Linked DNA regions of Homo sapiens. The main gene of each other region encodes a partner of the protein of the gene in region 2 in a complex. Each region holds a gene or a part of one and is shown on either strand. Other genes may lie near its edges. A codon is read from its position in the direction of its gene.

What was found. Proteins that work in one complex are often made in the same cells at the same time.
Region 1: the proteins of MED21 (region 2) and MED7 are in contact, whole or in part, in a cryo-EM structure (PDB 7EMF), measured with the Homo sapiens proteins. Residues at the interface, in NP_004255.2 of Homo sapiens: Asp3 (codon at 4,086), Leu5 (codon at 4,092), Thr6 (codon at 4,095), Leu8 (codon at 4,101), Gln9 (codon at 4,104), Val12 (codon at 4,113), Asn13 (codon at 4,116), Leu15, Ala16, Phe19, Ile23, Ile62, Ala66, Ile69, Asp70, Ile73, Asp74, Leu76, Pro77, Ser78, Glu79, Ser81, Ala83, Gln86, Ser89, Leu90, Leu93, Glu96, Asn97, His98; in NP_001094286.1 of Homo sapiens: Phe72, Asp73, His74, Lys75, Leu78, Arg79, Asn82, Ile85, Leu86, Phe89, Leu92, Leu93, Leu96, Phe116, Val119, His120, Ile123, Asn124, Tyr126, Arg127, His129, Gln130, Arg132, Glu133, Leu135, Arg136, Met139, Glu140, Gln142, Lys143.
Region 3: the proteins of MED21 (region 2) and MED26 are in contact, whole or in part, in a cryo-EM structure (PDB 7EMF), measured with the Homo sapiens proteins. Residues at the interface, in NP_004255.2 of Homo sapiens: Ala2 (codon at 4,083), Asp3 (codon at 4,086), Arg4 (codon at 4,089), Leu5 (codon at 4,092), Gln7 (codon at 4,098), Asp10 (codon at 4,107), Ser14 (codon at 4,119), Gln18, Asn21, Gly24, Val25, Gln28, Cys29, Tyr54, Leu57, Phe58, Leu61, Arg64, Thr65, Lys67, Asp68, Val71, Leu72, Asp74, Ser75, Leu76, Pro77, Ser78, Glu79, Glu80; in NP_004822.2 of Homo sapiens: Ser481, Arg482, Asn483, Glu484, Ile485, Ser488, Tyr489, Ser491, Arg492, Ser495, Leu496, Ser498, Ser499, Ser500, Leu528, His529, Ser535, Pro537, Thr538, Asp539, Leu540, Pro541, Gln549, Asp551, Leu552, Ile555, Gln556, Trp560, Gly562, Val563.

The regions. Positions count from the first base shown.
Region 1 is NC_000005.10:157,139,774-157,147,166, forward strand, and holds the start of MED7 (mediator of RNA polymerase II transcription subunit 7), read right to left. Parts: upstream 3,093-7,393; 5' UTR 3,047-3,092; intron 3,003-3,046; exon of another isoform or gene 2,628-3,002; intron 1-2,627. UniProt on the Homo sapiens protein: Component of the Mediator complex, a coactivator involved in the regulated transcription of nearly all RNA polymerase II-dependent genes.
Region 2 is NC_000012.12:27,018,501-27,025,763, forward strand, and holds the start of MED21 (mediator of RNA polymerase II transcription subunit 21), read left to right. Parts: upstream 1-4,057; 5' UTR 4,058-4,079; coding exon 4,080-4,121; exon of another isoform or gene 4,122-4,371; intron 4,372-7,263. UniProt on the Homo sapiens protein: Component of the Mediator complex, a coactivator involved in the regulated transcription of nearly all RNA polymerase II-dependent genes.
Region 3 is NC_000019.10:16,625,113-16,633,177, forward strand, and holds the start of MED26 (mediator of RNA polymerase II transcription subunit 26), read right to left. Parts: upstream 3,093-8,065; 5' UTR 2,832-3,092; coding exon 2,760-2,831; intron 1-2,759. UniProt on the Homo sapiens protein: Component of the Mediator complex, a coactivator involved in the regulated transcription of nearly all RNA polymerase II-dependent genes.

The DNA.
Region 1 (7,393 bases), on a different chromosome or scaffold from region 2:
TCCATAACCAAACTACACAGGCTGTCTCCCAATCTCATATCACAATCACTTTTGTTTTATGTTATAGATTTATTTCCAATAGCAAACACTTACTTGTATCTCTCATAAACACTCTGACAAAATTAACATTGCTAAATCCTAAACACATTATTATCCAAAGTTCCTGAATGAAATGATGATTCAGTTCCATACCCTTTTTGTCACAGTATACTATGCAATTTTATATGGACACATTAACTTTTGTTTGTTTTTTGAGATGGAGTCTTGCTCTGATGTCCAGGCTAGAGTGCAGTGGTGCAATCTCAGATCTCAGCTCACTGCAACCTCCGCCTCCTGGGCTCAAGCAATTCTCCTGCCTCAGCCTCCTAAGTAGATGGGATTACAGGCGTGCACCATGTCTGGCTAATTTTTGTATTTTTAGTAGAGACGGGATTTTGCCATGTTGGCCAGGTTGGTCTCTTTACTCCCCATCTCAGGTGATCCGCCCACCTTGGCCTCCCAAAGTGCTGGGATTACAGGCGTGAGCCACCACGCCTGGCCTGTATGGACACATTAACTTCTCTACAACTATCACAGAAATGTCAAACCCCAGGTTCAAACCCAGTATCTATGGCCATAATAACCTCTACTTATTCTACCTTAAGCCTAGGTATACCATCCAATGAGAAGATCCTTAAGTGCTCCTTTAGATTGGTGTTATCAGAGTTTCAAGATATAACACACTCTAACATCGGGTGGGGCAAGTATCCTACTAGAAGCAATATTATACTTAGAATTCGTGAGGTACTGAGGGCAGCTGTGGCGCAGCCCTGAGTTTCCACTATGCCACAGTGGTGCATAGGATGATGCAGCCTCGCCCTCCTAGGCTCAAGCGATCCTCCCACCTCAACCTCCCAAGCAGCTGGGACTACAGGCATGTCACCAAGCCCGGCTAATTTTTGTATATTTTGTAGAGACAGAGTTTTGCCATGTTACTCAGGCTTGTTTCAAACTCCTGAGCTCAAGCAATCCTCCTGCCTTGGCCTCCCAAAGTGCTGGGATTACAGGCGTGAGCCACCACACCCAGACATTTTAAAACTTTTAACATAAATTCAGATTACAGAAAAAGTGCATGAATACACAAAAAACACTTCATATTCTTCACTCAGATTCTCCAAATGTTAACATTTTCCTTCATTTGCTTTATTGGTTTTTCATTCCTTTACCCCTGAATACTTCAGTGTGTTTTCTCGTGACAAGAATGTTTTCTTCTACCCAAAGCACAATTACCAAAATCAAAGAATTAACAGTGATCTGGTACTTCAAAATACATTTTTTTTTTCCCTGAGACAGTGTCTCGCTCTGTCACCCAGGTTGGAGTGCAGTGGCACGATCTCGGCTCACTGCAAGCTCGGACTCCCGGGTTCACGCCATTCTCCTGCCTCAGCCGCCTGAGTAGCTAGGACTACAGGCGCCCGCCACGACGCCCGGCTAATGTTTTCTATTTTCAGTAGAGACGAGATTTCATCGTGTTAGCCAGGATGGTCTCGATCTCCTGACCTCGTGTTCCACCTGCCTCGACCTCCCAAAGTTCTGGGATTACAGGCGTGAGCCACCGTGCCCGGCAGAAAATACAATTTTTGACAGCTCACGTTTCATCCCACTCAAACCTTTTTAGGTGAGGAGTGCTGCTCTGTACTTTCCTACACGATGTGCATTCCTGTATTGCGGCTGCCATTTTCCTAAGGCCAACTACATGACAGGTACCATTTTTTATGGCCTCTGTAACATAATCTTCATTAACAATTCTATGAATTAAGGTTTTTGGGGTTTTTGTTGTTAGTTTTGTTTTTTGAGACAAGGGCTCAATCTGTCTCCCAGGCTGGAGTGCAGTGGTACCATCAGGGCTCACTGCAACCTCTGCCTCCCGGGTTCAAGGGATTCTCCTGCCTGAGCCTCCTGAGTAGCTGGGGACTACAGGTGCGCACCACCACGCCCAGCTAATTTTTGTATTTCTCGGTAAAGACAGGTTTTCACCATGTTGGCCAGGCTGGTCTGGAACTCCTGACCTCAAGTGATCCGCCCACCTCGGCCTCCCAAAGTGCTGGGATTACAGGCGTGAGCCACCACACGGTCCCACGAATTAAGTTCTATTATCAATTTCATTTTAGAAGTGAGGATCCGAAGTCTCAATGAGGGGAAGTGTTGCCCCAGATCAAAAGGTTAATAAATGGCACAACAGGAATTCTTATCCCAGGTCCCTTTAGCTCCAAAGGGCAAGCTCTCTTATATCCCTAAGCCGAGAAGCATCTAACTGTACAATAAGGACTGGCATATCACAAAAATTATATTTCTTTCTCTACTGTCTCTCTAGATGGAACTTTTCAAAGGTGATGGAGGTCTTATTTTTAATAAAAGCAGAGCCAAGCATCAGAGCTGGTTCTTAACTCAAGATCCAACATCTAGTGTTTGTTCTACTGGGGGAGAAGGAGCTTCACCAGAAGACGACAGACATTCCAGGGTCCCAGCCCCAGAGATTTGATTCATTCTGTCTACTGTGAATGGGCCCTAGAATGTCGCTTTTAAAACCTCTCCAGATGGACCTGACGATTAGGCTTGGGATCTACCGCCCTCGCCTGCCCCCATACCTCAGCTGTTTCATAACTGCTCCCAGAAGAAGGAAGGGCAGGGAGGGCTACTCTCATGTTACAAAGAGCCGGAGAGGGCAAATGACTCGCCCAAGGCCACACAGCTTAGAAAAACAGCGGCGCGGGGACTAGACGCCAGGTCTCCCAACCTCCACTCCGGCTCGGCGTCCCAACACGGAGGAAGCCCCGAGACTGCCACGCTTAGAGCCCCCTCCTCCAGGCTGTCCACCCCGAGGCCTCCGCGCTCTCGGAGAGACCGCACTCTCGGAGAGACTCGGGAGAGAAAGACGAAAGACCGCCTTTGGAGGCCGAACTCAGCCATGCCTCCCCAGTTCCCAGCCCAGCACAGAGGAAGCTGCGGGGTCCGGAAGAAAAAAACGCACACAGGCGGCGGCCCCAAACCGTTGCCGCCCACTTACCTCAGCTCTGGCTTTACACTGGTAGCCGCCTTCCCCTCTGCAGCCGAAACCAACTTCCGGTCTCCTCCGGGAAGAAGCCACCGACTCTGTCCTTGATTGGCTGTAAGAGCTGTCCTTTAACGAAATTCTAGCTCCGCCTCAGACCGATCCCTCGCTGTTGCGCCTACGTATGTTTGACTCCTCCCATCCACCCGTTACTGACTTTTAAAAGTCGTAGCTGAGGGTTCCGTTTCTTCGTTTCTTTTTGAATTAAGGCATAAAATTGAACAAGACACCTTATTGCTTTATTTTTTATAGACCCCTTATTGACCAGAAACAATCTTATGTTTTAATGTTTAACATGCTCTTGTAAGACTTAACGTGAATTTAGAAATTTATGACACGAAAATAACCTCCAAAAGAAACGCTTGCTATTGCGCCTGCGTATATTCCACCCCCTTCCCCATTACCACTCTTTTACTGACTTAGTCGCTGCTGGTAGTTCCATTCCTTTTGTCCTTTTTTAATTTAACGCATACAATTAAGACGTCTTACATACAAATTCGAAAATATAGACATGCAGGGTTTTTTTGTTGTTTTTTTCTTTGAGACGGAGTCTTTCTCTTTCGCCCAGGCTGGACTGCAGTGGCGCGATTTCGGCTCGCTGCAACTTCAGTCTCCGGGATTCAAGCGATTCTCGTGCCTCAGCCTCCCGAATAGTTGGGGTTTCACCTATTTTTTTTTCTTTTTTTTGTATTTTTGGTAGAGACAGGGTTTCACCGTGTTGGCGAGGCTCATCTCGAGCTCTTGATATGAAGTGATCCGCCCGCCTCGGCCACCCAAAGTGCTGGGATTGTAGGCGTGAACCACCACTTCCGGACTCCCCCATTTTAAATCCCTCGCACGTATCAATTTATTTCCTGAAGAAATCCATCTACGTTGAGCATAACCCAATCCAGCTTTTCTCCTCACCGCTGACCCCAATGTATCCTGCACCAGTGACTTCCAATGGTCGTTCCCAGTCCTCATTTTACTCCATCTGTCAGCAGCATTTGGCACATTTGATTAATGGATTGCCCCAGGACTCAGTTCTCCAACCACTTCTCAGTCAGATATCAGCTGGATGATTACATGCAGGCCCTGGAACACCGTTTCCTCTGCACTTCAGACCCTCATATCCAGTGGTGACAGACATCTTTCCCCAGTTGCACTTTACTCAATTGCAAATGTTCAATCGAAGGAATCACCTTTTTCTCCTTTCTCACATACCCCACCGAAACTACCATACCAGCCTTTTGCATTAGATCTATTTAAAAATAAGTAAATAAAGTTCCAAATATGACTGACCACCGTTCCCACTGCTATGGTCCTATGCCATGCCACCATTATCTCTCACCTGGACTTCTTTGATTTTTTGTCCTCCCTTAGTCTATTTACCACACCTTCTTAAAATATAAGACCGGTCTTATCACTCCTCTATTCAAAATCCTCCAAGGCTTTCTATGACTTTTAGAATAAAATCTGACATCCTTCCCCTGGCCTATATCACAGGCCCTACAAAATTGCCAAGTACATCCCGGCCTTGGGGCCAATGCATTTGCCTGGAACTCTTTGCACAGATATTGACACGTCTCATTTCCTTCTTTCCTTTTTTTTTTTTTTTTTTTTTTTTTTTTTTTTGAGACGAAGTCTTGCTCTGTCACCCAGGCTGGAGTGCAGTGGCCCAATCTCGGCTCACTGCAAGCTCCACCTCCCAGGTTCACGCCATTCTCCTGCCTCAGCCTCCCCAGCAGCTGGGACTAGAGGCACACGCCATCACGCCCAGCTAATTTTTTTGTATTTTTAGTAGAGACGGGGTTTCACCGTGTTAGCCAGGATGGTCTGAATCTCCTGACCTCGTGATCCGCCCGCCTCGGCCTCCCAAAGTGCTGGGATTATAGGCGTGAGCCACCGCGCCCGGCTTCATTTCCTCAATTCATTCAGGTTTCTGGTCAAATGTGACTTCAAAGAGTTCTTCTGGGGTTACACTACTCTATGCAAAATAGCGCATCCCTAATCTTTCTCTTGGGAGATGCCCCTGAAACCCTTACTATGTATTATCTTTTTTTCATAGAACCTCTCATCATCTGAAATCATCTTACATAGTATATTTATGTATTTTATTGCCTTTCTTATCCATCAAAAATATCAGGTTTATGAGCATGGGACCTTTGTTTCATTTACTGCTGTTGTGTTTGAACCTACATACAACGGTGCCTGAAATTGGCAAATACTCAATAAGTGTTTATTGAATAAGAAACAAAATGAATACAATCATCACTTTCAAATAAATTCATAGCGTGGCTTTGGTGGTTATACCACAGTCTCTTTAGCCAGATCCTCATTGTGTTAAATTATTTTTCTCCAAATTTGATCCAGTGTAACTACACAGGATGATGAGATCCCAGTACATATATGTTTGTGCATGTGTCCAATTTTGTTCTTTGAAATAAATTTCTAGAAATAGAATTACTGGGCCCAAAGGGGCAGTGTCTTAACAGTTAGTAGCAGAATCAAGGCTAGAATCTTGGACTCTTGACTATCAATCTAGTGTTCTTTCCAATAAACTTCAAATGAATAATGGATATGAAGTCCATATCATGAGAAGGGCTAGTGACAATATGATGTGTGTTAAACATTTAATTATATGACTATATTGGCAAAATCTCAATGGAAAGCTTATTACTTAAAGATGCCTACTACAGCTTAACAAGGAATATGCTCGTTGAATAAATCTGTATATTGTGTGTCTGTTGTGCCGGCACTGGTCTAGAAGGCTAAAAAGACAGACAAAAGCCAGTGGGGCCTTTGAAAAAAGTGTTCTTTCTAGAAGGTGTTCTAGAGAGACACAGACAAGAAGTATACAAACAAGTAAAAACTTCGAATAGTGGTAAGGGCTATGGGGGAAAGTATAATACAGATTAATGTGATAGTGACGTGGGTTGGGGAATAGCTACTTTACACAGGGTGGTCAGGGTAGCCTCTCACAGAAGGTTAACTTTGGAAACAAAATATGAAGGAGTGAATTCTGCAGAGATCTGGGAGACAGCAAATGCAAAGAGCGTGGGGCTGCCATGATCTTTCTGAATTAGAGAGAGGAAGGCAGCCTGTGTGCTCCATAGCTAGTGAGCAAAGAAAGAAAGAGCAGGGGAGATGAAATGGGCAAAGACACACGGTAACCGACTTCTTGCCTCCCTTAGGATCTTGGCACATTATAAAAAACATCGCTGTCATTTGAACCTAAATTACAAGCAGAAATTTTTAGTTTCCACCCTATTGATTTTTTAAAATGTAGATTTATTGAGGGATACTTTACATAGAATAAAATTAACTCTAGGTGAATAGTTATAAGAGTTTTGATAAATACATACTGACATAAAACCACTACCACCCGGATTAAGATGTAGAATATTTCATCACCCCAAACAACTTTTTTTTATTTCAATTCCTTCCCTTTATCCCCATCCTCTAGTAACCACTGATCTGATCCCTGTTCATATAGTTTTACCTTTTGCAGAATGTCATATAAATGAAATTAGAAAGTATGTAGTTTTTGGTGTCTGGTTCCTTTCACTTAGCATAATACTTTTGAAGTCCATCAATGTTGTTCAATGTATAATACTTTGTTCCTTTTTACAGATAAGGAATATTCCATTGTATGAATATACTGTAATTCATGTATCCATTCACTGGTTAATAGACATTTGGGTTATTTCAGTTTGAGGTGATTCTTAACAAAGATACTATAAACATTCCCATGCAAGTCAATTGTATGGACATATGTTTTCATTTCTTTTGGATAACAACATAGTGACAAAATTGCTGGACATTATAATAATTATATGTTTAACTATATGAGAAACTACCAAGCAGTTTTCTAAAGAGGCTGCTTATTTTTCATTTCTCAGCAATCTATCGGAGGTATAGTTGCCCTCAATCTGCAAATTGGTGTTATCCTTTTAATTTTTACTTTTTGCTATTCTAATATCTGTATAATGATTTTAATTTGCATTTCCTTAGTATTGGGTATCTTTCATGTGTTTACTGGCCATGTATATCTTTTCTTTGGCGAACTGTCTGTTCAAAATTTTTGCCCATTTTTTAAATTGGCATGTTTTCTTACTATTGAATTGTAAGGGTGCACACACACAAATACACACAAGATATAAGTCCTTGATAAGATATGTCTTTTACAAATATTTTCTCCTAGTCTGTGGTTAATCATTTCATTTTTTAAGTGTCTTTCAGCAAGCAGAGTTTTTTTATTTTGATGATGACAAGTTTATCAATTATTTTATTTTATGGCTCATACTTTTTGTGTCCTTTCCA
Region 2 (7,263 bases):
TAGAGGCTTAAAGTCTGTTTAGGCCAGGCGCAGTGGCTCATACCTGTAATCCCAGTACTTTAGCAGACCAAGGCAGGAGGATCTCTGGAGACCAGGAGTTCAAGATCAGCCCAGGCAACATAGTGAGATCCCCATTCTTACACACACACATACACACACACACACACACAACCAGAAAAAAAAATTAGCTGGGCATGGTGGGGCACATCTGTAGTCCTAGATACACAGGTGGCTGAGGCTGGAGAATTGTTCGAGCCTAGGAGTTTGAGTTTGCAGCGAGCCATGATTATGCCACTGTACTCCAGCCTGGGTGACAGAGCAAGACCCTGTATCTAATAAAACAAAAGTCTGTTAAAATTTAGAAGAGGAAGGAAGGGCAGGAGGGAGAGAAGGAGGAAGGGAAAAAACTTACCCTAGCTTTTTAAATAAAACCTAAAATACCTTAAATGGAGCTGGGAGTGGGGATCCAGGGAAAAGGCAGGATTGAACCTCTGTGAAATTTGCCCATTCATTCTTTCCCACTCTAATCTCACCTTCATCCTGTATTTTTTAATTCTTATGCTCTTTTGTGGGTAGTAATTTACATTCTTTGTTCATTAAGTTAAATTCAGTAAATGCTTGTTTAGTAGCTATTATATGGAAATTATTATGCTAGGAAACTCATTCATTTGGTTGATAAATATGTGCCAGGCTAAAAGTTAGGTGCTAGGTACTGGAAATATGGAAACAGAATATGTTTTCTGCCTGCAAGTAGCCCATGGACTGGTGGGTGAATTAGCGTGATGTACAAATAATTACAGCACAGTATGCTAAGTGCAATAACAGAAGTGTAAGGAACAATTGTGTTAAAGATTGGGAGCATTTAACTTTCAGAATTCAGGAAAGGCTTTTATAAAGAGATGTTTAAAATAAGATTTTGTTCACTAGTATAGTGGCAAGTAAAAAAAATAATAATAGGCCGGGCACAGTGGCTGACGCCTGTAATTCTAGCACTTTGGGAGGCCAAGGCGGGTGGATCACCTGAGGTCAGGAGTTCAAGACCAGCCTGGCCAACATAGCAAAACCCCGTCTCTACACAAATACAAAAAACTTACCCAGGTGTGGTGGCGGGCACCTGTAATCCCAGCTACTCTGGAGGCTGAGGTAGGAGAATCACTAGAACCCTGGGGGCAGAGGTTGCAGTGAGCTGAGATCGTGCCACTGCATTCCAGCCTGGGTAACAGAGTGAGATTCTGTCTCAAATAAATAAATAAATAATAAAATAAGGTTTGAGTACTGTGTGGACAATCACCAAGGGAGCAAAGTGGAGATGTGGATGGAAGTGTAGGCATTTCATACAAGGAAGAAATAATTATAGGTGTTTTTATATGGTGTGCATTTTTGTAAAACAGCAGAACATGTTTAGGGAATTTCAAAGAGTGTGGTATAGAAAAATGCTTATTTATAGTTATTCATCCCGGCACTAAGAACAGTTTAGATATTTAATAAATTGCAACTGTGAGTATTAAAGTTATTTAAAAATTGCTAAAGGTGTTTTTCTTAAAAAATAGTTGCTACAGTCATAAAAACCAAAGCATTTACAAGATTGACTGAGTGGCTCACTGCTGAAGCTGTAAAGGGTATGCGAGGGTTCACTATACTGTCTACTTTTCTATATCTTTGAAACTTTTAATAATATAAAGTTTCAAAGAAAGTACTCACCAAAATTGTGTGTTTAAAATATGAGATCTGTAATACTGGGTTCCTGCTCCTAAAACCATATAATCCAGTTGGCGATGCAACAGAAGCAAATGGAAAAGCATATGAGAAAGTGTCCAAATCATGAAAGGAAGAAAGGAGAGGTCCCTATGGACTCTAGCAATTCATAAAATTTATATGAGAAGTGTACAGCTTAAAAAGGTAGGGTAAGGATTAAATAGCAGGAAAGAAATTGCTTTGGGAAAGGTAAAGAATGAGGAAAGAGCTAGACCAGTGGTTCTCAATTGGGGGCAATTTTGCCCCCCAGCAACATTTGGGACTATCTGGAGATACTTTATGTTGGCATAAATGGATTGGGGGGATGCTACCGGCATCTCAGGGGTAAGGGACAGGGATGCTCTAAACATCCTACAGTGCACAGGTCAGCATCCCACAGCAAAGAATAATCTAGCCTGAAAAGTCAAGAGTGCAGCCATTGAGAAATCCTGAGCTAGATGCACAGACTATATTTGGCAGGTGGGTTATTCTTGAAGTCTACAGCTTCAAGAGCTTCCTAAACCCCTTTTCAAATGTAGGCTAAGTTGAGAGTCTGGTCTGGGGAAAGGGTCCACAGCTTTTATCTGATTCTTAAAAAGATCCGTGGCCGAAAGAGGCTGAAGAACCAGGAAAACCAAGGGGTCAGGGACCTTGGCTGAAACAGATTATTTCACTCAGAAAATTATCAGGAGGTGAGGCTGGGTCTGTTTGCTGGAGCCAGATTATAGTAAATCTTGAAAACCAGGCAGAGATAGTTGGACATCAACCTGAGGTCTCTGTGGAGGCACAGAAGACCTATTAGGAAGATAATGGCAGGACAAAAACTGTGTCACAATATGAATGTCTTGAAGTGGCTTCTCTACTTCAACTGCCCAAGTTCCCTTCAATCAGGCTGCAAAACTTAGTATTCTTATGGAGTGGACTAAACTATATCCAATCAGTCACCAATCCATATTAATTTTTTTTCTCAAAAATATATTTTAGTCTTTCTTTCCCCGCTTATCAGGGTCAACACCCTATTCTAGGCCCAGCTCATCTTAATCTTGGACAACTGCAAAACCTTCCTTAGTGAGTCCTTGGCTTATTCATCTTTGCAAATTGAGCACTGGATATACTTCCTGGCATGTGGCAGCCATTCCGTAAGGTACACTCTCAAGTGAGGGTGGGAGGAGAAGGTTGTAGAATCCCCCCAAGTTACAGTGAAAACAAATTACAGAGTGATTTCTCATTAGTCCCATTATGGGGAACATGCCTCATCCACGTTCTTAATGAGGCTCCAGTAAGTCTGTAGACTGTTTGGGGCTGAGGGTGGGGCATTGGTGTGAAGCAGAAGTGGTGCTTCACAGTAAGTGTTGGGATAAATCCAACAAGCTGAGTTCCCCAGGGACTGTGTCTTCCACCTTCCCCGCAGCCACAGGAAGGTAATCACGGATAATCAGCCTGAGAAAGAGGATATGAGAGTTTTTTGAAGTCTACAAACCTGTTATTTGCCGATTCCAAACTCATTTCTTACCAGACTATCCTCAGGCTAAATTTCCTTAAATACCAAGTTTCGATTATCACTTTTCACACTTAAACTCTCAATAAGTCCCAACTCTAAATCTAAATTGTGCAGCTAATTTTTCTTGGCCGAGCACGGTGGCTCACGCCTGTAATCCCAGCACTTTGAGAGGCCGAGGCGGGCGGAGCACGAGGTCGGGAGATCGAGACCATCCTGGCTAACATGGTGAAACCCCGTCTCTACTAAAAGTACAAAAAAAAAAAAAAAATGCCGGGCGTGGTGCGGACGCCTGTAGTCCCAGCTACTCCGGAGGCTGAGGCAGGAGAATGGCGTGAACCCGGGAGGCGGAGCTGGCAGTGAGCCGAGATCGCACCACTGCACTCCAGCCTGGGCGACAGAACGAGACTCCGTCTCAAATAAATAAATAAATAAATAAATAAATAAATAAAAATAAATATATTTACTCTTCAATTTGGTCAATAAATAAACACGAGAGGGTACGAGAAATTACTTAAAAAAAAAAAATCCCCGCAGAATCCAACAATCTCTGAAGCCTTTAACACCTAACAACCCCAAGGGGAGTATTTCGGCTCTTGGACTGTATTTCAAAGCGATTGGACCCCAGACCATTCCCCCAGTTACTCAAAAGATCCAGCCTCTCCTCAGGTGTAGCCCGCTCTAGAAAGGCCGCCTCGGGAGTACCACCCACTCCTGACGGGGCGGGGAGTTCTCTCCGACCCCACCCGTTCCAAGGACGCAGCCCTGTGATTGGCCATGACGCGTGCCAGAGCTGCCCAGTCGCGGAAGAGCAGCTGTTTTGGCGTCTGTTTGCTGCGGTAGGAACATGGCGGATCGGCTCACGCAGCTTCAGGACGCTGTGAATTCGGTGAGGAATTTCATTCGATTAGCCTCTGTCTTTCTCTTTCTTGAGGTAAAGCAAGGGAGGAAAGGGGCCCAAGAGGCAAAACTTGAAAGTGGGGAGCGGACTGAGAGACAGGGCTTCGGCATAAAGCGCTCTCTCGGGAGGCGCCACCGCGAACTCGGAGGTTTGAGGCCGGCTGCCGGGCGGTGCTTGAAGGTGCGGGAGGGAGCAGACTCTTTCGCTTGAGGAGACCGGGAAGATCGTTCTTGTCCGGGTGAGGCCGCCAGGACTTGTGGGCTGCGCGGTCCTGTCGTGTTCCCTGAGGACAGTTTTATTTTCTTGTCAGTGGTGCTTACGGGTTCTCTTTCTTTTGGGGGTTGGGAGGAGAAGCAGGAGCTTTTTTCTTTCCTCATCAATTTTAATCCACCAAGGGAGATCTCATGCTCTGGATGACTGGGTTTTTGTAATGAAATGTCAGCCGAGAGTATTCCTTCACCAGCGCTTTCAGGTTGGTGCGGGAGCGATGCTGAGGTGAGGTGAGAGATTTTCTTTCATCTTAGCTCGTTCCTTTGGGCCCAGAGTATCCTTCCATCTCTTGCCTCTTGGCCATCCCTCAGAATACATCAGTTTGGGGACATCTTTATGATAGGAAATCTTCTAATCCTCGTATGTCTTTCCGCTTATTTGAGTCTTTTTTCTTTTCTTTTTTTTTTTTTTTTTACTTTGGAGACAGTGCCTTTCGCCCAGGCTGGAGTGCAGTGGCGCGATCTCTGCTCACTGCATCCTCCGCCTCCCGGGTTCAAGCGATTCTCCTGTCTGAGCCAAAGTAGCTGGGATTACAGGCGCCCTCCACCACGCCCGGCTAATGTTTGTATTTTTAGTAGAGACGGGGTTTCACCATGTTGTCCAGGCTGGTCTCAAACTCCCGGCCTCAAGCGATCCTCCCGCCTCGGCCTCCCATAGTGCTGGGATTACAGGTGTGAGCCACCGTGCCCGGCCTACAAGTCCTTTTTAATGTCTCCCCCAAATTCTACTCTCTATTAAAGGCCAAGTCTAGTAAGTAGCTCCCCAGCTTTGTTCCTTCTGGTTATTTTTCCTCCACACTATGCCTGAGTGGAAAGTAGAAGCAAAGCCAGAGGATGCGCAGTCATGGGCCCCTAATGAAGGGGTCATGTTCTGAGAAATGCATGGTTTTGGCGATAACTTTTTTTTTTGTTTTAATAAGTAGAAGTACAATGTAAAATAACGATAAAACAGTAATACATAAACCAGTAACAAAGTCATTTAGTATCATTATCAAGTGTCATGGACTGCACATAATTGTATGTGCTATGCTTTCATACACTGGCAGTGTGGTAGGTTGATTTACAGCAGCATCACCACAAGCACTAAGGAACGCATTGCGCTACAGCGTTAGTACTGCTACGATGTCACTAGGCAATAAGAATTTTTCAGCTTTATTATAACCATAGGGGACTGACATAATATGTGCATCCCGTTGACCAAGACGTCAGTGGGTATTCCCATGCGGCAATGGGTGTACTTATTACCATTACGAGTTAGATTGTTTTCTGCTAAATAGTTTTCCATTGATAGTTATGTTTCTCATTGTCTGATTGTGATTTAATGTCCTAGATAAGGGGCTAGAGAGAAAACATGCTGATAGGAAAACCTAAGTACCTGGTTTCCTTGCCAGTTTTTTTTTTCCTCACTGTAAGCTAATAACTTGGCATTTTTCTTAATACATCAGAATTTGTACACTTGAAGAGTGTGAATCTACTTGTGATAAAACTGATCTACCCTGGGTGAATAACACTAGTTTTTAAGCTGAGAGGACCAGCCTCTAAGTGTTGAATTCACCAAGATAAATTCTACCCTGCAGGGACTTGCCTGGGCTGCCAGCCAGCCTTCCTCAGGGAACTACTCCTTTGAGGTTTTACGAAATCAAATTGTAATGATGCTGCTGGATAGAAATCTTATTTTAGGGAAAATTTTGCATATTCATACATGTCTTGTAACTAGAAGGATAATAAGGACAGAGTGAATATGGCCTTAACTCCAGGTTAGGCATAATGATAATTGGATTTTGGAGAAAAGCCTTTAGGATAACTAGTATGAGTGCCTACTGTGTGTAAGCACCATCATGTTTACAAAGAGATACTCCTAAAGGAGGTTAAAAAATGTCAAATACTCAGGAGACATTTAAGTGATGGAAAAACAGTATGTGGTTAGGGAGTTATAATGAATTGAGTATTTTCAGCTTCAGGTTCTGATGTAAATTGGAATATGGAGTGATGTGAACCAAAATAGGGGGAATCTTCTTAGCATTTATCCTAATCAGAATTATTTGTATAACTTTTAACATTTGTTCTACCCTCTGAAAACCGTGAGTGCAGAAGCTATGTCGCATTCACTATGTCTCTGTAGTGTTTATATGCAGTACTTTAGTTATTTTCCATAAATTTTTGTTGACTAAATGGATCTTAAAAGCTTTTGAAGGATGGAAAAGATAGACACTGTGTTGAATATTTTTTTGTGTGTGTTTCCTCTATTACAACAATGCTATAATAGGAGAATGTATCCAATTTAAAAATGAAAAATGCTGCTTGGATTAATAGAGCTAGGATCAGGATCTAGGTTTGTATAGCATCTGAGCACTTATTGCTCCATTACAATTAGCAAAACCTGGGCAAAGCCATTTAGTCATAAGTGACTTTATGACTAGTTAGATAAATATGAAGGAGTAGTGGAAAACGAGTCAGTAGAGTTGACTTAGATTATTGAAAGCTTCAAAACAGCCTGAGTTGGAGATTTATCTTGAAGACAGTGGTGGAGTAAGCTTAAATGTTTTGATCAGGTTAAAATAAATAACCTGGTGAACTGGAAAACAACAAGAAGACTATTGTAATAATTCTGGTGTGAGATAATTGGTTGAACTAAGCAACAGTGATAGAAGGAAAAGAGAAAGATTTGTAGTATTAGCAGAATATGAAGATCAAAGGAAAGTAAGAATCTGAAGTTAGATTGGTTGACTAGGAGACTTTCAATACAAATTAAATATTAAAAAGAGGAAACAGTTGCCTTTGAGTTCTGTCATTGAAACAATGGCAGAGAAACCCAGTGGAAATACTTATTAGAAATAGGAGGTTTGAGAGGTCAAGACTAG
Region 3 (8,065 bases), on a different chromosome or scaffold from region 2:
CCCTGGGCTGAAAGGGTGCACGACGAAAAGAAAAGCTCCAACTGCTCTGAAAAACTGTTAGTAGCCTTTTCAAAAGGAGAGTAGAGGATTTACTTTATTACTGAATTGGCAGAAATTATTAACTCTGAGCCTGCTGCTATAGGAATTCAAATGCATACTCCAGGGGCTAAAAGTGAGAGCACAGAAACTACTTTCCTCCTAAGAATTCCTTTGTCAAGGAGATGGTTGGTAAACACGACTTCGTCACTTCCCTAACTTTCCAGATACTTGTGGATATTAGGTCAGTTCCTGACACCGATTTTGCAAGCAATAGCTAAGTTTGTTAACCATAATTGCATGCCCATAAAGGTAAGCATTACATGACACAATTCTCTGCCGCTTCTCTCAGAAGAGGTTTAATTTTAGTGTTGGCTCTTCAACACTGTCCCCGTTTTTTTTTTTTTCATGAGCATCTTAAATATGTGTCAACTAAATATCCAGTAGTGGAGTTCATCATTGGGCAGGGCAGAGAGGAGAGAGCGGCACGCCGGCAGCACCTGTGCTGGAGCCACCTGCTCTCACCTGAGCCCACATTGATCCAAGAGAAACTGCAGACGCACTGACATGCCCGGCTCTCACCATCACCTCCGCCAGCAATCCTGTCCACCGCGGCTCTGTGTTTCTGCATGGTGTTTGCTCAAAGCAAACGGTCCTGTCAAATGGCCCATAACAGCGCTCAGAGGGTCAATCACAAAGGAGGCACTTTCCTCATTGTTCATAGTCAAGAAGATAACTTCCCAAATCCATCCACCCCATGTTAGTAGGACTCTGCCCAAGATCATCACTAAAGTCCCTGAAAATAAGCGGTATGAAATGCAAATTCCATGCCAGCTAACATAACCAGGGACCTATATAGCATTTCTGCATGTGCTAAGACACACAAAACTAAGATTTGTTCCATCCTCCTTTCTTCTGCCTCAAGGAACCCTTTAGATTAGAACCCTATACAATACTGGAAACTGTGAGGTCACTGGAGTGACCTAATCTACAACACTGTGATCGCCTGTCAAAGTGCCGCCTGATCCCAAAGCTCTCTGAGGTGGCATTAAGGATCAGTGCTAATATCTCAGCAACCTCTCAGACTCTCCAGAAGGAAAGCGAGTGCGTGAAATTAAAAAAATTACCTTCCGGCTCCACAAAAGATGCACAAGTCACCAAGGCTATTTTTTTCATGTCACTAGTTTTATCCTCTAATATTTCAGTCTTAAAATTGCAGTGACACCAGTTACTGCAAAAAGGACATTCTAGAAGGTTTTATATAGCTTGTGCCCACTCCACCCCCAAAGTCATAACAAAAATGTACAATATAACATTTGTTAAAGACAATTACCATCAAGTCAATGTTAATGGGACCTGAATACCAGGGATAAGAGAAGTACTTATATCACAGCAACCAGAGCCTTCGAAAAAACTCATAACCCTTCAGTCTTAACCAAAAATTGTATAAGCCAATGTGAATTATTCCCAAAACATCATCAGAGTGAAGCATATTGCTAAGAGTAATCAGCCAAGCTCATGTAAAAATGAAAGCAAAAACCCCTACGGTGAGAGAAACCTGAGTTACCTGGCCAAGCCAAAGATGATATTTTTCTTCCATTCACAGCACATTAAAAAGTGATCTCAATGGCCACTTCCTGGGAAGCAGGGCCTCCCCTCATACCTGGATGCTACTGCATCTTCCTACCGCCCTGCTCCTGCCGCGGGAAGAATGACCCCTACTGCCAAGAAACTCTTGGAGAAAATATGAGAATAGATCAGTCTTCCCCCCCACCCCCCCACCCCCGCAACAACACACACACACACACGGAAGGGGAGGGGGCGGTCCCTCCGCAAACAGTAGCCTCAGCAAAGGGGCACCCGAGGAAGCGACACTCTGGAGTTAACCCCGACAGTCTGGGTCAAAAACCACCAGGCTGAGACCCCCAGGTGAGGGAAAGAGCCTACTGAAACAGAGCTCTTGGGTAAACGGGAGAGAAAAGTCCTCTTTAATTCACTACCTAAAAAATGGAGCTCTGGCTTGGTCAGAGACGCAATGGGTACTGAGGCCCAGAAAGGCAACAGGAAGGATCCCACCCTCCCCGAGATCATCTATCGTCGGCAGCGACCCCAAGAGGGTTTTGGCAAAGGCGTGTCTAGTCACAGAAGGGAGACAGACTCTCCACGTACCCTAGGTACCCGGCCAGGGGCAAAACAGACTGGGGGTTCTCTCCGAAGCCAGGAAGGTGCTGCCAGCCGAGAGGAGGGGGAAGAAGGACTTCCCTGATCACCCAGGAGGCCAAGACATGGGAGACATAGGTTCCCCGAGTCATACCCCGGACACCAGTTGCTTCACAGCCCTTCTCCCTCCCCTTCCCGCTCCGGGAGGGCTTCCCGGGGGTCTCGGGTCCCGGAGGGAGGGCGAGGCAGAGAAGCTTCGTCCAGAGCAGTGAGGGTCGTAGAGCTGGAGCAGAAAGGGAGGAAAAACTCTAGCCTCAGCTCCCCCGTCTGCTTCCTCCGCCCAGGCCGCACGGAAGCCTCGGCCTCACGTACCGAGCGCTGCCGGGCTGCCCGACCTGCCCCCGGCCCGGGCCCGAGAAGCGAGAGGCAGGGATGGCAGCGGCCCTCGAGGGGAGGTGGGCGCCAGACGGGTCCCCCGAAGCCCGGTGGGCGAGGGGTACAGGAGAGGGGGAGGGTCCCGGGCCCATGCGGCCTCCGTCCCAGCTCGCGCGGCGGGTACTTACGTTGCTCTGGGGGTCGATGGCCTGCAGCAGCCGGTCCCTGATCTGCTGCGGAGACGCCGGAGCCGCTGTCATTGCCTGGGCGAGGCGGGGGGTTGCGGCCGGGCCAGCGGGCGGGCGGGCTGAGGCGGGGGACGGGGGTCACTCACTCGCCGGCCTCCGGGAGCCGGAGCCGCATGTTCCCCGCGGCGCCGGGGGGTTGGGGGCGCGCGGGGTGGCGGAGAGGGGAGCCGGGGCCGGGTCTCGGTCCCGGGCCGCCGCCGCCACCAAAGGAGGAGGAGGAGCCGCCGGAGCCGCCGCCGCTCGCTGCCGCCGCCTCGAGAACCAAACTCCAGTGAGCTGCCCCCGCGCGGAGTACTCTGGGTAGTCCGCGCCGCACGCAGCGTCGGCGCCACGCTGAGGAGGTTGGGAGATGGGGCGGGCGGAGACGCCAGGCCTGGGCGGGGCTGCCCGTGTGCCACGCCCCGCGCCTCCGCGCAAGCGCGCGCAGGCGCACTCGTCCGCCCGTGACGCCCCGCCCAGCCGCCCGGCCTAGGCAGCCGTTGGGAGGAGGTTGGGCGGGGCAACGGCCCCCGTCCAGGTCACGGGGCGGGGCTTTCTGACGGAAGCGCGCGCGCAAAGAGTCCTTGAACCCGGACGCTCGCAGCGGCTACCTCGGGGCGGGGAGGGCGGCGGGAAAATCCTTCCTCTGGGAGAGCCTTCCCGGCGCGTGACTGGGGGACGGGAGTCGCAGGCTGAGCAGCTGCCGAGTTTTTTGTGAGGGCGAGGGAACCAGACGTCCACGTTGTGATTCTGCGCGCAGAAGGGTCATCGGAGTCCGGGGGTGTCGCCGCGGCCCCCCCGCCCCTCAGAGGGTGTGGGAATGGGTGTGGTGGCAGGGCGGGGGTCTGCACCGCCACGCGCGACCCCGATCGCGAAAACGTGAGGCGGCAAAGCGCCTCTGGCAGAAGCCGCCCGCCGTAGCTGGGAAAGCCGGAGGTTGCAAATCTGCGTCTACGCGGCGGCTTCTCCACCTCGGCACCACTGGCATTTGGGCGGGATCGCTCTGTCTTCGGGGCGGGTCCCCCGATCTGTCGGAAGTTGAGCGGCATCTCTGGCCTCCGAAGCGCCCCCTCCCCCAATCTGCAGTCATTGCCGCCGTCCCTTGTGGGGGCACAGTCCCCCCGCCCCCCCACCGGCAGAGAACCCCGTGATTGAAAGACCCTTCTACCCGCCTCTGCCTTGAGATTCTGTAAAACTGAGATGCTCATTCTCTTAACCAAACACGTCACAGAGGAGGAAACGGAGGCCCAAGGTCACCTAGACTTCGGGGTTAAGCCCAGAACCGCAGATGTCAAGTTTAAGGGCGCCCCTCCTCCCTCCACCCTGTTTATTGCCTTGGTAATTGCTCCCCTCTCTCTGGGAGCTCTGTTGGAAATGCTCTTGTGAGACGGGATGGAAAGGCAAGCTCGGCGGCCTCGGGAGAAATCTTTTTTTTCCCACTGTTACAGGAAGACCTAGATTTAAAACAGGAGGAAGACAGCTGATGAGAACCACATGTGTGCCTTGGAGCTGCCCGACACCTGTTAGTCTTGTATTTGTTGTGCTTCTGGGAAATATTTTCATTTGCAAAAACGGCTGCTTCTGCACGTGGCTATGGTTGCGTGCTTCTGCACATGTGAAAAGTTTTACATCACACTTGGAGGAGAAAAGAAACACGGGCAAAACACTTGTCATTTACTGCTCCCAACCTCGCCCCTCCCAGAATGCGGTGCATTGTGTACATGGTGTACATGGTCCAAGTTGGAAACTGGCCCATTCGGAGATAATTCTCTCATTTCTGATAAGCAAAATAAGCAAAGCCTTCCTCAGGCATATTCTGGTCTTGCCTCTCTCTTAATTTCTAACTCGGATGTACAGTATCTTTTTTTTTTTTTAATAAAGTATTACATAGGAGGCAATTTATTTTGCATGGGTCAGGTTATTTTAAGAAACATTTGGGCCGGACGTGGTGGCTCAAGCCTGTAATCCCAGCACTTCAGCAGGCGGAGGTGGGCGATCACTTGAGCTCAGGAGTTCGAGACTAGCCTGGCCAACATGGTGAAACCCCATCTCTACTAAAAATACAAAAATTAGCCGGGCATGCTGGCGCGCACTTGTAATCCTGGCTACTAGAGGGGGCTGAGGCAGAAGAATTGCTTGAACCCGGGAGGCGGAGGTTGCAGTGAGCCAAGATCACACCACTGCACTCCAGCCTGGGCAACAGACTCTGTCTCAAACAAAATGTGGGGCCAGCCACGGTGGCTCATGCCTGGTAGCTCATGCCTGTAATCCCAGCACTTTGGGAAGCCGAGGTGGGCAGATCACTTGCGGTCAGGAGTTCGAGACCTGCGTGGCCAAAATAGTGAAACCCCTTCTCTACTGAAAAAACAAAAATTAGCCGGGCATGGTGGCACACACCTGTAATCCCAGCTACTCAGAAGGCTGAGGCACGAGAATTGTTTGAACCCAGAAGGCAGAGGCTGCAGTGAGCTGAGATCACGCCACTGTACTCCAACCTGGGTGACAGAGCAAGACTGTCTTGAAAAATAAACAAACATCTGGAAAGTACTCAACTTACCCACTTTTTAAAAACTAAGAAGCACTGACATGACTTGGTTCCTCAAGGGCACTGGCTCTTTTTGGTATCCCCAGTAGATAGAAAAATAGTATCTGTGGAGTAAGTCAATGAAAAGTTTCATCAAATACACGGTAGCGTTACACACACCCCCAGACATATGAATGCATTTCAGTTTCTACAGATCTGGTACACCATGGGTCTGGAGAGCTATTTCTGGAATGAATGAAATACTTCATAAAATATAATACTATATACACCAGGATACACAACACACACACGGATATTTAGTTTTATTCCACATTTAATGTACGTAAAAGGGTGTTTTTGTAAATGCAAAGATTAAATCAGACAGCCTCTGAATTGTAGTCTTGAAAACATTAGCAAGTTCTTTTAGGTCCAGGGTAGATACTGCAGTTCACTTAGCCAACTTTCTGCATTGAGACATCCTTGCCAGGGATCCTGTCAGTTATGCGAAGATGCGGCACGAGATAATTCCTCTTGCTGTGATGGTTCGTCCTCAATGACAGGTCCCTTATAGTATTTAGGTACAACAAGGTCTTTTGTGCTTGGAATGCCCTTGAAAAAGCTGCCTCACCTGTTTGTGAAGGGAACCCCAAAGAGAAAGGGAGAGGAAGGGCTGGGTGCAGTGGCTCACATCTATAATCCCAGCACTTTGGGAGGCCGAGGTGGGTGGATCATTTGAGGTAAGGAGTTAAGAGACCAGCCTGGCCAACATGGTGAAACCCCACCTCTACTAAGAATACAAAAATTAGCCGGGCATGGTGGTGGGCACCTGTATTCCCAGCTACTTGGGAGGTAGAGGCAGGAGAATTGCATGAACCTGGGAGGCAGAGGTTGCAGTGAGCCAAGATCACACCACCACACTCCAGCCTGGGTGACAGAGCGAGACTCCATCACAAATATAAAATAAAATAAAATAAATAGAAAAAAGGGAGAGGAAGTAGTTCAGAGTCCATGACTTGCTCTTGCCATGGGAAAAGGCAAGGAAGTTAGTGTCAGGAGGTCAAGTGCAGAGCATCTTCAGCCAACCTGGACAGTGAGGGAGTAGAAGGATGCTTCTCCCTGGACTCACTGCTGTGGCCTAAGCAGGAACCGGGATATTCAAGAGCACTGCAGAGGAAGCCGTGACGAGGCAGGTTCACACAGCTGTACAGGAATAGTCTTCCACAGCGACACCTTGTAATAGCCAGGAGCAACAGCAGGAATGCGCTCATCAGACATGTCAGAAGCAAGCCCCTGAGAGACAGGCCATTTAAAGCACAGGGTTACTAAACTTACCCTAATAAGGGATGTGAGGGCTCCAGGGATTAACAGAAAAAGCCAGTGTGACAAAAACAACCACCCTCCTTTGACCCCTATGTTTGCTTTAACAGGCGGGTGGAATTTTTTTTTTTTTTTTTTCGAGAGAGTCTCACTCTGTTGCCAGTCTGGAGTGCAGTGGCGTGATCTTGGCTCACTGCAATCTCCGCCTTTCAGGTTCAAGCGATTCTCCTGCCTCAGCCTCCCGAGTAGCTGGGACTACAGGCGGGTGCCACCACACCCAGCTAATTTTTGTATTTTTAGTAGAGACAGGGTTTCACCATGTTGGCCAGGATGGTCTCAAACTCCTGACTTCATGATCCGCCTGCCTTGGCCTCCCAAAGTGCTGGGATTACAGGCATGAGCCACCACACCCGGCCGCTGGCAGAAATTTTTAAAACCCTTTCTCATATATGAACTCATTCAACCCTATCAGTTATCTCAGAAGTACCTAGAGATGAGTTTCATAGTTCTGCTTGGCTTTGCACTAAGTCTTGTTTACTCTAAAAGTGAAACCAATTTAAATTGGTTTTGACTAACCTTGACATGTCAAAGATAGGTAGAAGACCTCAATTTTTTAATCCCATCTTCAAGTAGGGATGGGGATACAGAAAGGTTCCAGTTCTGAACGCAAGCCCCGGAACCTGGTTGGGGGGTGGGAATTCATGAATACAATACTTTAATTGCACTGTACAAACACAACACGGCTGGGACACCAACGAATGAAAAAAGTCATTAACTGTGAACATTTTTTTTTTTTTTTTTTTTGAGGCAGAGTCTCGCTTTGTTGCCCAGGCTGGAGTGAAATGGTGCCATCTGGGCTCACCTCTACCTCTTGGGTTCAAGTGATTCTCGTGCCTCAGCCTCCTGAGTAGCTGGAATTACAGTTGCATGCCACCATGCCCAGCTAATTTTTGTATTTTTAGTAGAGATGCGGTTTCGTCATGTTGGTCAGGCTGCTCTGGAACTCCTGACTTCAGGTGATCCACCCGCCTCAGCCTCCCAAAGTGCTGGGATTACAGGCGTGAGCCACCATGCCCGGCCAACTGGGAGCATTTCAATAAGCTCATACCCTCTGACCCTGTGGATATGAGCGTACTGAAATTCACAACTTCTAAAAGTTTATCTGAAGGAGGCAATCAGATGTAGACAAATGTGTATGTACAAGGAAGTTCACTGAAGCACTATTTGTAAGAGTGAAAGATTGGAAGCAATGTAAGTGCCTAGCAATAGGGGAGTACGTAAATAAACTGTGATTAGTTCCCCACAATGGGAAGGTTATGAATTAGAAGGCGCCACAGGGAGCCTTGTGGGTGCTACAATAATCTAAGCCTCAATGTGAGCGGTGACCTCACTGGTGTTTGTACATGTAGAAATTCACCAAGCTGGC